Linked DNA regions of Homo sapiens: region 2 is linked to region 1. A link means that fine-mapping ties the variant in region 1 to the expression of a gene that starts in the linked region. Tissue or cell type: whole blood. Region 1 holds a variant in brackets; the other region holds the start of a gene. All regions are shown on one strand. Distances are between the middles of the regions.

Region 1 (7,959 bases):
TAGGGGTGTGTGAAGTTTATCCGATTTATATAGAGGAAAAACATCAAAACTTACTCTGAAACCCTATGCATTTCTTTCCTGTTTTTTTTTTTTTTTTTTTTTTAAGACGGAGTGTTGCTCTGTCACCAGGCTTCAGTGCAGTGGTGTGATCTCAGCTCACTGCAAACTCCGCCTCCCGGGTTCAAGTGATTCTCCTGTCTCAGTCTCGCAAGTAGCTGGGACTACAGGTGTGTGCCACCAGGCCCAGCTAATTTTTGTATTTTTAGTAGAGACGGGGTTTCACCATGTTGGCCAGGATGGTCTTGATCTCTTGACCTCATGATCCCCCCGCCTCGGCCTCCCAAAGTGCTGAGATTACAGGCGTGAGCCACCGTACCTAGCCTCTTTCCTCCTTTTTTTTAAAATTTCTTATTTTTGTAGAGACAGGGTCTCATCATATTGCCCAGGTTGGTCTTGAACTCCTGGACTCAAGCAATCCTCCTGCCATGACCTCCAGAAGAGCTGTGATTACTGGTGTGAGGCACCATGCCTGGCCTTTCTTTCCTTTCCTTTTTTTTTTTTTGAGATGGAGTCTTGTTCTGTCGCCTAGCCTGGAGTGCAGTGGCACAATCTTAGCTCACTGCAACCTCTGCCTCCCAGGTTCAAGCGATTCTCCTGCCGCAGCCTCCTAAGTAGCTGGGACTACTGGCGTGTGCCACCACACCTGGCTAATTTTTTGTATTTTTAGTAGAGACGGGGTTTCACGGTGTTAGCCAGGATGGTCTCGATCTCCTGATCTCATGACCTGCCCACCTCGGCCTCCCAAAGTGATGGGATTACAAGGCGTGAGTCACTGTGCCTGGCCCTCTTTTCGTTTTTTGAGATGGAGTCTTGCTCTGTTGCCAGGCTGGAGTGCAGCGGCACAATCTCAGCTCACTGCAACCTCCACCTCCCGGGTTCAAGCGATTCCCCTGCCTCAGCCTCCAGAGTAGTTGGGATTACAGGCGCGCGCCACCATGCCCGGCTAATTTTTTGTATTTTAGTAGAGATAGGGTTTCACCATGTTGGCCAGGATGGTCTCGAACTCCTGACCTTGTGACCTGCCTGCCTCGGCCTACCAAAGTGCTGGGATTACAGGTGTGAGCCACCGCACCCGGCCTCTTTTTTCAAATAGAGACTGTCCCACTCTGTTGACCAGGGTGGAGTGCATGGTGTGATCACAACTCACTGTAGCCTTCAACTTCTGGGCTCAAAAAATCCTCCTGCCTCATCCTCCTGAGTAGCTGAAACCACAGGTGTATGCCACCACATCCAGCTAATTTTCAAATTACTTTTTGCAGAGACAGGGCCCTCACTATGTTGCCCAGGGTGGTCTCAAACTCCTGGGCTCAAGGTATCCTCTAGCCTCAGCCTCCGAAAGTGCTGGGAGTACATGTGTGCCACTGCACTCCAGACTGGGTGACACAGTGAGGCTCTGTCTCAAAAATAAAATAAATAAAATAAAATCAGTCAAATTAGCCAGGCGTGGCAGCATGCGCCAGTAGTCCCAATTACTTGGGAGGCTGAGGCAGGAGAATTGCTTGAACCTGGGAGGCAGAGGTTGCAGCGAGCCGAGATCGCACCACTGCAACTCCAGCCTGGATGACAGAACAAGACTGTCTTAAAAAAAAAAAAAAAAAAATTAGTCAAGTGCAATAGTGAGAAGGGGGGGAAAGAAAGAGTCCAACTATTTTTTTTTTTTAATCAAGTGCTTATATGTTTTGGGGAAGAAAAAAAAAAAAAAAACGTTGGGATCCAGGTGCCTTGGCCTGTAATCCCCATATTTGAGAGGCCAAGAGGACTGCTTGAGCCCAGGAGTTCAAGACCAGCCTGGGCAACAAAACAAGACCCTGTCTCTTCCAAAAAAAATTTTAAAATTAACTGGGCGTGGTGGCGGTGTGGGCCTGTGGTCCCAGCTACTAGGGATGCTGTGGTGGAAGGATCGCTTGAGAGCACCACTACACTTTAGCCTGGGCTACAGAACAAGACTCTGTCTCAATTACAAAAAAAAAAAAAAAAAAAAAAAAAAAAAGGCTGGGCGCAGTGGCTCATGCCTGTAATCCCAGCACTTTGGGAGACCGAGGCAGGTGGATCACCTGAGGTCAGGAGACCAGCCTGACCAACATGGAGAAACCCTGTCTCTACCAATACAAAATTAGCTGGGCATGGTGGTGCATGCCTGTAATCCCAGCTACTTGGGAGGCTGAGGCAAGAGAATCTTGCCCAGGGGGCAGAGGTTGCGGTGAGCCGAGATTGCGCGACTGCACTCCAGCCTAGGCAACAAGAGCAAAACTCCGTCTCAAAAAAATAAAAAGGGCCAGACACAGTGGTTCGCGTCTGTAATCCCAGCACTTTGAGAGGCTGAGGCAACCTGAGGTCAGGAGTTCGAGACCAGCCTAGCCAACATGGTGAAACCCTTTCTCTACTAAAAATACAAAAATTAGCTGGGCGTGGTGGTGGACACCTATAATCCCAGCTTCTCGCAAGGCTGAGGCAAGAGAATTCCTTGAACCTGGGAGACGGAGGTTGCAGTGAGCCAAGATCGTGCCACTGCACTCCACCCTGGGTGAAAGAGTGAGACTCAGTCTCAAAAGAAAAAAAAAAAAAAAGTTGAATGACTTAATGGGCACCAGAATGCTTTTGTCCAAATTGTGCTTGTATTACAAGCATTATAGCCTCAAAGAACAAAGCTTCAACTGAGAGCTGGAGAAGAATTCATTTACCAGAATACTTCATTTCTTTCTTTTTATTTTGAGACAGAGTCTCGCTCTGTCGCCCAGGCTGGAGAGCAGTGATGCGATCTCGGCTAACTGCAACCTCCACCTCCCAGGTTCAAGCCATTTGCCTGCCTCAGCCTCCCGAGTAGCTGGGATTACAGATGACTGCCACCACGCCCAGGTAATTTTTTGTACTTTTAGTAGAAATGGGATTTCACCATGTTGGCTAGGCTGGTCTTGAACTCCTGACCTCAGGTGATCCACCCGCCTTGGCCTCCCAAAGTGCTGGGATTATAAGCATCAGCCACCACTCCTGGCCCCATTTCATTTCTTTAGAAGTAAAATGCTGGCCGGGCACGGTGGCTCACGACTGTAACCCCAGCATTTTGGGAGGCCGAGGTGGCCGGATCATGAGATCAGGAGATCGAGACCATCCTGGTTAACACGATGAAACAGTCTCTACTAAAAATACAAAAAATTAGCCGGGCATGGTGGTGGACGCCTGTAGTCCCAGCTACACAGGAGGCTGAGGCAGGAGAATGGCATGAACTCGGGAGGTGGAGCTTGTGGTGAGCAGAGATCACGCCACTGCACTCCAGCCTGGGCAATGGAGCGAGACTCCGTCTAAAAAAAAAAAAAAAAAGTAAAATGCTATCTGCAAAGAGATCATCATATCCTTGTTTTAGGAAAACTCTTTGGGCAATATATTCCACAGGTCTGAAAGATAAACCTTTATTGCCAAGGACTGCTCTCAGCCAACTACAGTACTTGTAAAATTCAAGAATGTATAACTGTATGCCAGCCAGTACTGACTAACAGGTCATTCACTCTTTAGAGTTGCAGTAAATAGCAATGCTCAAACGCCCAGCTAGTTTTTTGTATTTAAAATTATTTGTATTTAAATCTTAAAAAATATTTTTAAAAATACATTTTACTAGGTTCTTATTTCAACACAAACTGAACTCATCAGCTGTAGCAGTATGTTGAAAAACAACTGTTGCCATTCAGCTGATATTAACAGCTCAGAACTGTTTTCTATGTCTAAATTTCAGGTTAACGATATCAGCCAAAATCTATCTTCTCATACCTATTCTCAAAGGAACGGTCTTACAAAACTAATAATCTGGTCGAGTGCGGTGGCTCACACCTGTAATCCCAGCACTCTGGAAGGCAGAGGCAGGCGGATCACCTAATGTCAAGAGTTGGAGACCAGCCTGACCAACATGGTGAAACCCCGTCTCTACTAAAAAATACAAAATTAGCTGGGCATGGTGGGGCATTCCTGTAATCCCAGCTACTTGGGAGGCTGAGGCATGAGAATCACTTGAACTCGGGAGGCGGAGGTTGCAGTGAGACAAGATAGCACCGTTGCAGTGAGACAAGATAGCACCATTGCACTCCAGCCTGGGCAATAAGAGCTAAACTCCGTCTCAAAAACAAACAAACAAA[A/C]AAAAAAAATTCCTGCTTTTTCTTTGCCTAAATTTTTATCAAATATTTTGAACAGAAGCCACATGTATTTCTACACTACAAGAAAAGCATAAGTTCAGAAATAAGTAATCATACCCCCTAGTCAAACTTAACTATAGGAAGGAAGGACAGGACAGGACAGGAAAGGAGGAGAAAAAAGAAATTAGCTGGGTATACTCAGGAGGCTGAGGCAGGAGGATGGCTTGAGCCCAGGAATTTGAGGCTGCAGTGTACTATGACAGCCTGGGCATCATAGCAATGTCTTTGAAAAAAAAAAGGATGGCCGGGCACGGTGGCTCACGCCTGTAATCCCAGCACTCTGGGAGGCCGAGGCGGGAGGATCACAAGGTCAGGAGATCGGGACCATCATGGCTAACATGGTGAAACCCCATCTCTGCTAAAACTACAAAAAAAAATTAGCCAGGCGTGGTGGCGGGTACCTGTAGTCCCAGCCACTGCACTCTAGCCTGGGCGACAGAGCAAGACTCCATCTCAAAAAAAAAAGGAAAAGGAAAAAGAAAAAAGAACACACCTCACCAATTTTGAAATGTGAACATACAACAAATAAAGCAATATTTTTTGGAACTCATCACTTTGCATTGAATTAGGCATGGAACAAACACTAAGCATTTGTTAAGAGAACGATGCTCTGGATTTAAATTATATATCCTGTATTCTAAGATCCTCATTACTCAATTGATAGGCAAGCCTGGACCTGGGGGGAAGTGGACTAATCAGAAACACAACCCTGCATTCCTTCCCTTTGGCTGACTTATACAAATATAAGAATAAAATTTAATTGACAAAGGATAACAGCATTTATAAGTAAGATTGTTATGCTGGAGATATGTTAATTAAGTCCTCTGGATTAAAGGCTAAAACTCAATTTTACCTGCATGAATTGATTACAGAGAAAATTACCAGGTCCTTTGCTCCTTTTTAAGAGAACTGTGGTAGAACTTTTTAAGAGAACTGTTTCTGGTAGAAAACAATTCTTAAGTCACACAACCTCAAAAGTTAAAAGTGCTGGCTTTTGAAGAGGTTGTTTGAAATGCTTTGGAAAAATGCACAACAGTTTAAGTAGTAAATAATATTAAGCCATTACAAATCAGGACAAATATTAACAGACCTTCCATACAACTTCTATGTATCTCTTCAATATGCCCTTTGCCTACAGCACTCTGGGCACAAAAATCTGGGGAAAACTAAGATCTGTTTATTGGAGCTTTTTACCTTCTACCCAGAAAAGTTAGTTCGTGTTTAATTCTGACATTACACAGTACTTAAGACATTCAAAGCAACTGCAGTGATACAACTCTATGCTAAGTTTTTTTTAAATCAGTAAACTTAACCCACAACTCACAATATTTTAATCAGGAGCTCTGGAAGTAAGGGTATTTTTCTGTTTTTTTCCATACCCTCTGAGGTTGAAATTTTTTTGCTCTTTTACTCTGAATAATACCTAAACCCTCTCTAGGGAGAGAAATATTTTATTCCTAAATGACATTATTAACGCATTTTTCTACAGATATTAAAGTACTGGAGATATGCTGTTTCCTGCTTATCAGGAAATTAAAATCCCTTTCATTTATGTAGTTTGATTTTTTATAGCGCTTTCACATATATTCACTTGAACGTATACACGACACAAACATATAACAAATTTAGACTTATCAGGCATACAAGATGACCCTCAGCCTGAACTTATTCAAACTTAACTTACTCGATTTCACATCGTCTTGATGCTAACAAAATTAAGCATGAGCATAATGAAATCGGTATCACTGCCAGTTCTCAATGAACAAAAAGAAAACCAAATTCGCCCATTTCGCAAAGGAAAAGTACTCCCAATCAGACAATCGCAAAAAAAAGAACAAAATCTAAACCATACATTCACGTACATCTTTTCAACTCAGAGCTCCAAACGCAGCCGCCAACCACACAACTGCCCACAATCACAGCGGTAGCGCCTACTCTTAATTTTGAAGCTAGAGACTTAAGGAAACACACACACACACAAAACAGTTCTCAAGTTTGACAAAGTGGGGGAAAAGTCATTTTAAGTAAAGACAACGAGTTAATCAGGAGGCGATGAGCCCAGTCCTTCCGCCCCGCTTTCCCGCTTCCAGCCCTCGAACGAACCCTCCTCTAACCCCCGGGAGGCAGGAGTTCCAGCGGGGAGATGCGGGAAGCCTCAGACGAGCCCGCACGCCGCCGGAGACGCAGGGATCGAGGTCGGGGAGACAAAGAGCAGCCCGCGAAGAGCCCGGGCGGCGAGGGGCGGCCCGGCTCCGCCCTGCGCCCCTAACCGCCCGGGTAGTTGTCGGCACCGCCGGGGCGCCGCCGAGTGCGCGCCGCTTCTGTCCGGGCTCCCCGACCGTCGCCCGACACCTCCGCGGCCCAGGACACCCCCGAGCCGTTTCCCTCCCGATTTGGGAGCCGCGCGCCTGGGGACAAAGAGGGAGGGTGCGCCGGGGACAGTGGCAGGACGCGGGCCGGCGACGCCCCTCCGGACTCGGCGGGAACCCCTCGGCGGCGCCCCCCTCCTTCTCCCGCTCTGGCCGCGCTCCTCCCCGGACCTCCGGAGGTTCTCCTCGGCCCCTCCCCGGGCTCCCCAAGAGTTCTCCCGCCTCCCCCTGGGACCCCGCCCCTGGCCCGCTTCTCCTCAGCCGGCCCTGCGGCCGCCCCTCACCCGGCGGCGGGTTCCCCCGGAGCCGCCTCCTCCGCCGGGCCTCGGCCCGTCCCGCCGGTCGCGGCCTCATGTGCCCCGCGTCGCCATCGCCTTCACCCTCGCCTCTCCTCCACCTCCTCCGCCGCTGCCGCCTTCGCCTCAGTCTCCAGCCGAGGCAGAAGCCGCTCCCGCCGCTGCCGCCGCCGCCGCCGCCTCCCGCTCCCGCCGCCGCGACCCGCGGGAAGGCGCCTGCGCACTGCGCGCTGCGGTGGGGGCGGGGGCGTCCCGCCGCGGCCCGGGAGCGGGGGGCGCGCGGCACGTGGCGCTCGAGTGGGAGGGGGGCGCCCCAGAACGCGCGGGAAGCGACGCGAGCGCCAACTTTCCGCGGTCGAGTCCTCGCCGCTCTCTCGGATAGTCCGGGACGCGGCGGAGGCGCGGCGCGCGTGGGAGTCACCCGCGTGGAGTCTGGACCCCGGGTGGGCGCAGACTTCGCTCCGGACAGTTCATTCTTCCAAGCTGATTTTCGGGCGAGAGTCCCCCGCCAGCCGCGCCTCAGTTTGAGCGGGCCGCTAACGGCGCCGTGGGTTCTCGCCTTACCTGGGTATCCTGGGTTGGTTTAGCGGGCCCAGAGTTGTCTTCTGCGCGCTCCGCCGAGGCCTTGGTCCATTGTAGCACGGGATGCTAATGTCTCCTCCCAGGTTCTGCTCTACAATTCCTCGAGGATCTGGCGGGCCCTGCGTGGATCTAGCTAGAGTCGGGGCTCTTAGCAGTGCTCTAGATACTTTTCAGGTCCTGAACTTCTCGGATTAGCAAGACCCTAATAGGCTATTTCCTCTTAACTCTTTGCATCCCAGCAGGATCCCATTCAGAGGACTTGGGAAAAATTTTCATGCATAGGAATCCCCAGTTTTAAAATGCCCAGTAGGAAACCGAAAATTCTCCAAATGCTTTAAGTAGAGTAAGACTTTGGGTAATAAAGGAAGGCTCAGTAAAGAGATGGGCGACCTCTGGAATGATCTCATCTGAGCATCAGAATGCCGATGGACAGGCTTTTATTATTTTGCCCTTTTGACCAGAGGGGAAATT
Region 2 (5,529 bases), 74 kb after region 1:
CAATAGCCAAGACAGCACCTTGCATAAGTAGGAACTGGATAAATGTTAACTGAATGGGATGTTTAATTTTAAGATGCTGATATTTCTTGGATTAGACTGATACCTCCAACTCCCTCAATGCCACCTGCTGGGTGCTGAATGTAGAGAGAGAATTGGAGCTCCAAGGACCAATAATTAAATGTAAATTATTATGGAAACTTTCACATGCATATTCTTTTTACTTCTAAAAAGCTACTATCGCATTTATGCTTATCTCATTCTCCCAAGACCCCAGTCAAGGGATTGAAGAAATTATTTATTTATTTTATATATATTTTTTGAGACAGAGTTTTGCTCTTGTTGCCCAGGCTGGAGTACAACGGCACGATCTCAGTTCACTGCAACCTCCGCCTCCTGGTTTCAAGCGATTCTCCTGCCTCAGCCTCCCGAGTAGTTGGGACTACAGGAGTGCACCACTACGCCTGGCTAATTTTTTTGTATTCTTAGTAGAGATGGGTTTTCACCATGTTGGCCAGGCTGGTCTCGAACTCCTGACCTCAGGTGATCCGCCCGCGTCTTTCTCCCAAAGTGCTGGGATTACAGGCGTGAGCCACCGCGCCCGGCCGATTGAAGAAACTGTTATAGAAAGCTGTTCATGGAACAAGCCAAGCTCATTTCTGCCTCAGGGCCACTGCACTTGCCTTTCTCTTTGTCCAAAACGCTCTCCCCTTTGATATTTTTCACCTTGTTCCTTTATTTCAATCAAGTCTCCACTAAAATGTCATCTTCTCTGTCACTCTAAAAAGTCCCCCATACATACTCTCCAACTTCCCACTTTCACTGTTTTATTGCTATTCACAAATGTTATACATTTATCACTAGCTGACTTGTATCTAGTTGTTTACTGTTCATTTCCCCAACTACAATTGAAGCAAAGACTTTGTTCACTTAGTACTGTGCCTAGCATAGACTAAGCCCTCAATAAGTATTTACTGAACTAATGAATGACTCTAACAAGGTACACAGAATATAGCTGATTTGCCCACAGTTACACAAAACTAGCGACTCATGGTAACAAACCTCACTGCCGCTTCCCGCTACAATGCAGGAGCTCAGAGGACTTCGGAGGGAACTTGGCAAAGAACGGCTGAAAGCGGCACGGATAGAAGAGGAAGTGAGCGAGGGGACTGGACAGTTAGAGCACCACTCCTACCTAGCGATACGATTTTACGGACTGAGGCTATAGAGGCAGCCCCGAAATCGAGGTGTGTGCGTGTGTGCGCGCTTCGGAAGCCTTGGGAAGGCACGAGGACGACAGGGTCTTCCATTCTTTTTCCCGCTCCAGGCCTCAATTTACCGATCCGTAAAGCGAAAGGGGCCAATAGCATATAAGGCCCCTTCCAGATCTGACGCTTTTTAATTTCCTATCCCACCTGGAGCAACCCTTCCGTGCCGCTGACCCGCTTCAACTTACCTCTCGCCTGCTCAGCTAAGAGTTCCCAGGCCGCTGCCGGAGATCGTGCTTCCGCCCCACGCCGAGGAAACGCCTGCGCCCGCCGCCAGGAAGGACCCCGCAGACGCCGCTGTCGCCTTTCTGCCCGGGAGGACAACCCTCTGCCTGAGGACCAGTTCCGAGGTATGCCCGCCGCGGACTGGCAAGGCGGAGTAGCGGGTCCCCAAGACGAGTAGCCCAAGACGTGGGCTGCTCCAAAGAGGGTGAGAGCTGAGGATGAACGAATCTGATCAGGCGCCTCGGGACCACCCTGAAAATGGGGGGAGGGGCCTTCGGGCAGATCACGTGGTCAGGCTGTTAGCGCAGTTGCTAGGCAACCACAGCTGCGGGCGTGGTCTGCGCGGGGTTGCCCTCCTGTTCTGGTTTATCAGGGGATCCCCAAAGAAAGCAAGGGGACCAAGGCCGGGACTGCTGGGGTGAAGGTCCGGGAGGCTGAGTAAGGGGACGGAAGGGTTAGTTCTATGTATTAAATGCCTGGGGAGGGCTGAGAACTGGACACCTGATTTCGGTTACTGGCCACCCCAGCCCCTTCTTGGCGTTCAGATTCCCTACGTTGGGGTAGGGTGGCTATGGGATTGGTTGGGGACTTCCTGCTTCCTTGCGCTAGGGCTGTTGGTGATGACCCCGCCACAAAATCTAGCTCAACTCACTAGGAGTTTGCAGTTCAGAGAGGTCCCACAAGTAAATGCCAGAGCCACGACTAGAACCCACGTAGAGAATCTCTCTGCAGTGGCTCACGCCTGTAATCCCAGCACTTTGGGAGGCCGAGGCGCGCGGATTACTTGAGGTCAGGATCGAAAATTGCTTGAACCCCGGAGGCAGAGGTTGCAATGAGCCAAGATCGCGCCACTGCACTCCAGCCTGGGCAACAGAGCCAGAAAAAAAAAAAAAGAAAAGAATATCTCTGTAGAAATGATCAGTCAGCCTCAGATATGCAGAAACTACAGAAGTACAGTGATAGAACTAAAGGCATTGCCCAGGTACCTAGGGACCTCTGTTCCAGCCCTGGGCTGGACAGAGGGATTTGGGGATGGGGTCATTGAGCTCCTTCCTTTGCCCCTTCTACTTGATTTCCTGCTCAGTCATTGCATCTGGTTTGGGTGAAAGTCTCCTTCCTCATTAAAGACATTCAATGAAGAATGAAACTTTATCCCCGAGCTCAAGGGTAACTAACAAGAGTTCTGCCTTTGTGTGAGGTCCCCTGTCGAAACGACTTGCTGTAGAACAATCCTATGGGGGAAGAGTGAAGAAACTGAATTCTGAGATCCCAATGCCTCCTCGACTGAAGCACCAAAATTAAAAATATTTTTAGAGGCAAAGAGCAAAATTAAGACAGAACTCCAAATTGAAAGTCAGGACTCTGTATTCTATTTTCAGGGACAAGTCTTGTGTAAGTCCTCACTGTGAAATTCAACTTGTCTTTGTAAAATAGAAAACCAGATTTTTGTAACACCTCCCAATCTGAGTGACATGATGTCCAGAGTGCTTTGGGGTCATTTTGTGTTCTGGTGAATAATTCAGAGGTACCCTCTTTCCCCTGATATTGACTGTCCACTGACATGTATTCCCTTTGCCTTCCCAGGCACAGGCCATGGAAAGGAATGACATCATCAACTTCAAGGCTTTGGAGAAAGAGCTGCAGGCTGCACTCACTGCTGATGAGAAGTACAAACGGGAGAATGCTGCCAAGTTACGGGCAGTGGAACAGAGGGTGGCTTCCTATGAGGAGTTCAGGTTGGCTCACTGCCATTTTTCTCAGGCCCTCCTGTTATGGTGGATTATAGTAGTTAACTCTGAAATCAAACCATTCTGGGCTTCAGTCCTGGCCCCACCGTCTACTGTTTGATCTTATGCAATTTCCTTAACTTCTCTGAGTCTCAATTATTTATCTGTAGAACAGTAACTGTTATAATTAAATGAGTTCTTGCACATAAGACTGAGCAAGTGTCTGACACATGTGAGGTGCTTGAAAGCAGTCAGCTATCGCTGTTGTTATTATTATGGTCATATTGGTCCGTAACAGGTTTATCCTATACCATGCAAAGTCTAGCTGCCTCACACCCACAGACACAGCATTAAGTCCATTGCCTAATTTCTGTCCTTTGCCTACAGGGGTATTGTCCTTGCATCACATCTGAAGCCACTGGAGCGGAAGGATAAGATGGGAGGAAAGAGAACTGTGCCCTGGAACTGTCACACTATTCAGGGAAGGACCTTCCAGGATGTGGCCACTGAAATCTCCCCGGTAGGTGAGGCCCTGCCCCTTTAGTCCAGCAGGATTCTCTGCCCTAAAGCTTCAATCCTGTTTTTTCATTTTGTTTTGTTTTGTTTTGTTTTTTTAACCACACATACCTCTTCTTTATTTGTCATGTTAAACCAACAGAGATAGGTTTCTGCCTCCAATCCCAGAAAGAAAAACAAACAGCAGATGGCAAAGCTGAGTTGAAGTGGGCAGAATGAGTCAGAAAGTTGGGCTAGGAAGGTCGGCTTCCCTTAGTCCTTTGACTTTCATTCTCAGATCAGAATTGGGATGCTCTGCCTCTGGGTTGTATGGTGTCTAGTGTAATGATCCTGTGGCAGTGTTGAGAGAGAGACCCCAACATTCAGATCCTTGAGTTCCTTTCTCTCTTCCTGAGATTTCCAATCAACCCATCCACCCGACTTACAGTAAACCCTGACTTACTCTTGAAGACCAGAGCTATGTCTCCATTCATGAGTAGGAAAATTCCAGTATAAATGAGAATCTCAAATCATGGCGTGGATTCCTTGGGGCCCTCCCTGTTTCATCCCCAGTTTCCTCATCTGAAAATGAGGCCGCCAAGGACCACAGCTTTCCCAGTGCTCAGACAGTAGTGAGATGAAGACAGTAAGATGAAGAGCTACAGGCTCCCCTCCCTGTCACTGTTGCAGAACAGCTGGAAGAGCTCCTGACTCCCTTTCCTTCCTTTGTGGTCCAGGAGAAAGCCCCCCTCCAGCCCGAGACGTCTGCTGACTTCTATCGTGATTGGCGACGACACTTGCCAAGTGGGCCAGAGCGCTACCAGGCTCTACTGCAGCTTGGGGGTCCAAGGCTCGGCTGCCTCTTCCAGACAGATGTGGGATTTGGACTTCTTGGGGAGCTGCTGGTGGCACTGGCTGATCACGTGGGGCCGGCTGACCGGGCAGCGGTGCTGGGGATCCTATGCAGCCTGGCGAGCACTGGGCGCTTCACCCTGAACCTAAGCCTGCTGAGCCGGGCAGAGAGAGAGAGCTGCAAGGGCTTGTTTCAGAAGCTGCAAGCCATGGGCAACCCCAGATCCGTGAAGGAGGGGCTCAGCTGGGAGGAGCAGGGTCTGGAGGAGCAGTCTGGTGGGCTCCAGGAGGAGGAGAGGCTCCTGCAGGAGCTGCTGGAGCTGTACCAGGTTGACTGATGCGGCAAGCTACCCTCAGAGGTCCCAGTGGTCACTGGAGGCAGTTTTTTGGTTGTTGTCTTGGGGGTTCTGCAGGACCATAATAAGAAACCCACACCTGGTTCCCTTCTCAACTTGGAATTTTCAGAGCAAAAACAGGAATCAAGTCTTCCCCACTTCTCCAGTCCCTCAGTGTCTCGCTGTTTTGAACTGTGTGTATCCATGGACAGTCAAGAGCTCAGGAAGTTGAGAGCGGTTTTGTTTCCCACCCTTAGAGTCTGCCAAGCCTCTAGCCCACTGGCCTTGAGAGATGAGTGTGTGCCCAACCAAATGCTGGCTATACCAGTTACAGCCTCCACTCATAAAAGGGAAAAAGCAAAATCTTTATGGTAAACAAACACTGATCTCCACAGCTCTTAACAAGAATGTTTATAGCCCCAAACCAATGAATGGACATGTAATCAACAAATGATCAAATACTACATCATTTGAGGTGTTGAATTTTCCCCTAGAGACTCAGTTCTTGTGCAGGTTGGGCCTGGGAAAGTCCCAAGCCATCAGCTCAGGTCCAGCCAGCCTCCCGGATGGCCAGATATGCAGGAGGGTGGGTTTCCTTCATCCCCCAGGTTGATGAAAGACTTTTCCACC

What was found. PIP is the estimated chance that this variant, and not a neighbour inherited with it, causes the effect.
Region 2: it holds the start of EFTUD2, and the variant in region 1 is fine-mapped to the expression of EFTUD2 in whole blood (INTERVAL, PIP above 0.99).

The regions. Positions count from the first base shown.
Region 1 is chr17:44,823,168-44,831,126 of GRCh38, forward strand. GJC1 (gap junction protein gamma 1) reads right to left here and starts at 7,120. Exons shown (of 3, transcript NM_005497.4): 1 at 6,895-7,120. RefSeq lists a silencer at 6,433-6,722 and enhancers at 6,778-7,751, 7,752-7,959. The variant A/C (reference allele first, on the strand shown) is at 4,185.
Region 2 is chr17:44,897,916-44,903,444 of GRCh38, forward strand. It overlaps EFTUD2 (elongation factor Tu GTP binding domain containing 2), which reads right to left and starts at 1,530. Exons shown (of 28, transcript NM_004247.4): 1 at 1,454-1,530. It overlaps DNAAF19 (dynein axonemal assembly factor 19), which reads left to right and starts at 1,814. Exons shown (of 4, transcript NM_213607.3): 1 at 1,814-1,944; 2 at 3,075-3,226; 3 at 3,605-3,737; 4 at 4,450-5,529. The coding sequence starts at 3,084. The coding sequence ends at 4,902. It overlaps GFAP (glial fibrillary acidic protein), which reads right to left. Exons shown (of 9, transcript NM_002055.5): 9 at 5,244-5,529. It overlaps FAM187A (family with sequence similarity 187 member A), which reads left to right and starts at 5,518. Exons shown (of 1, transcript NM_001258400.2): 1 at 5,518-5,529.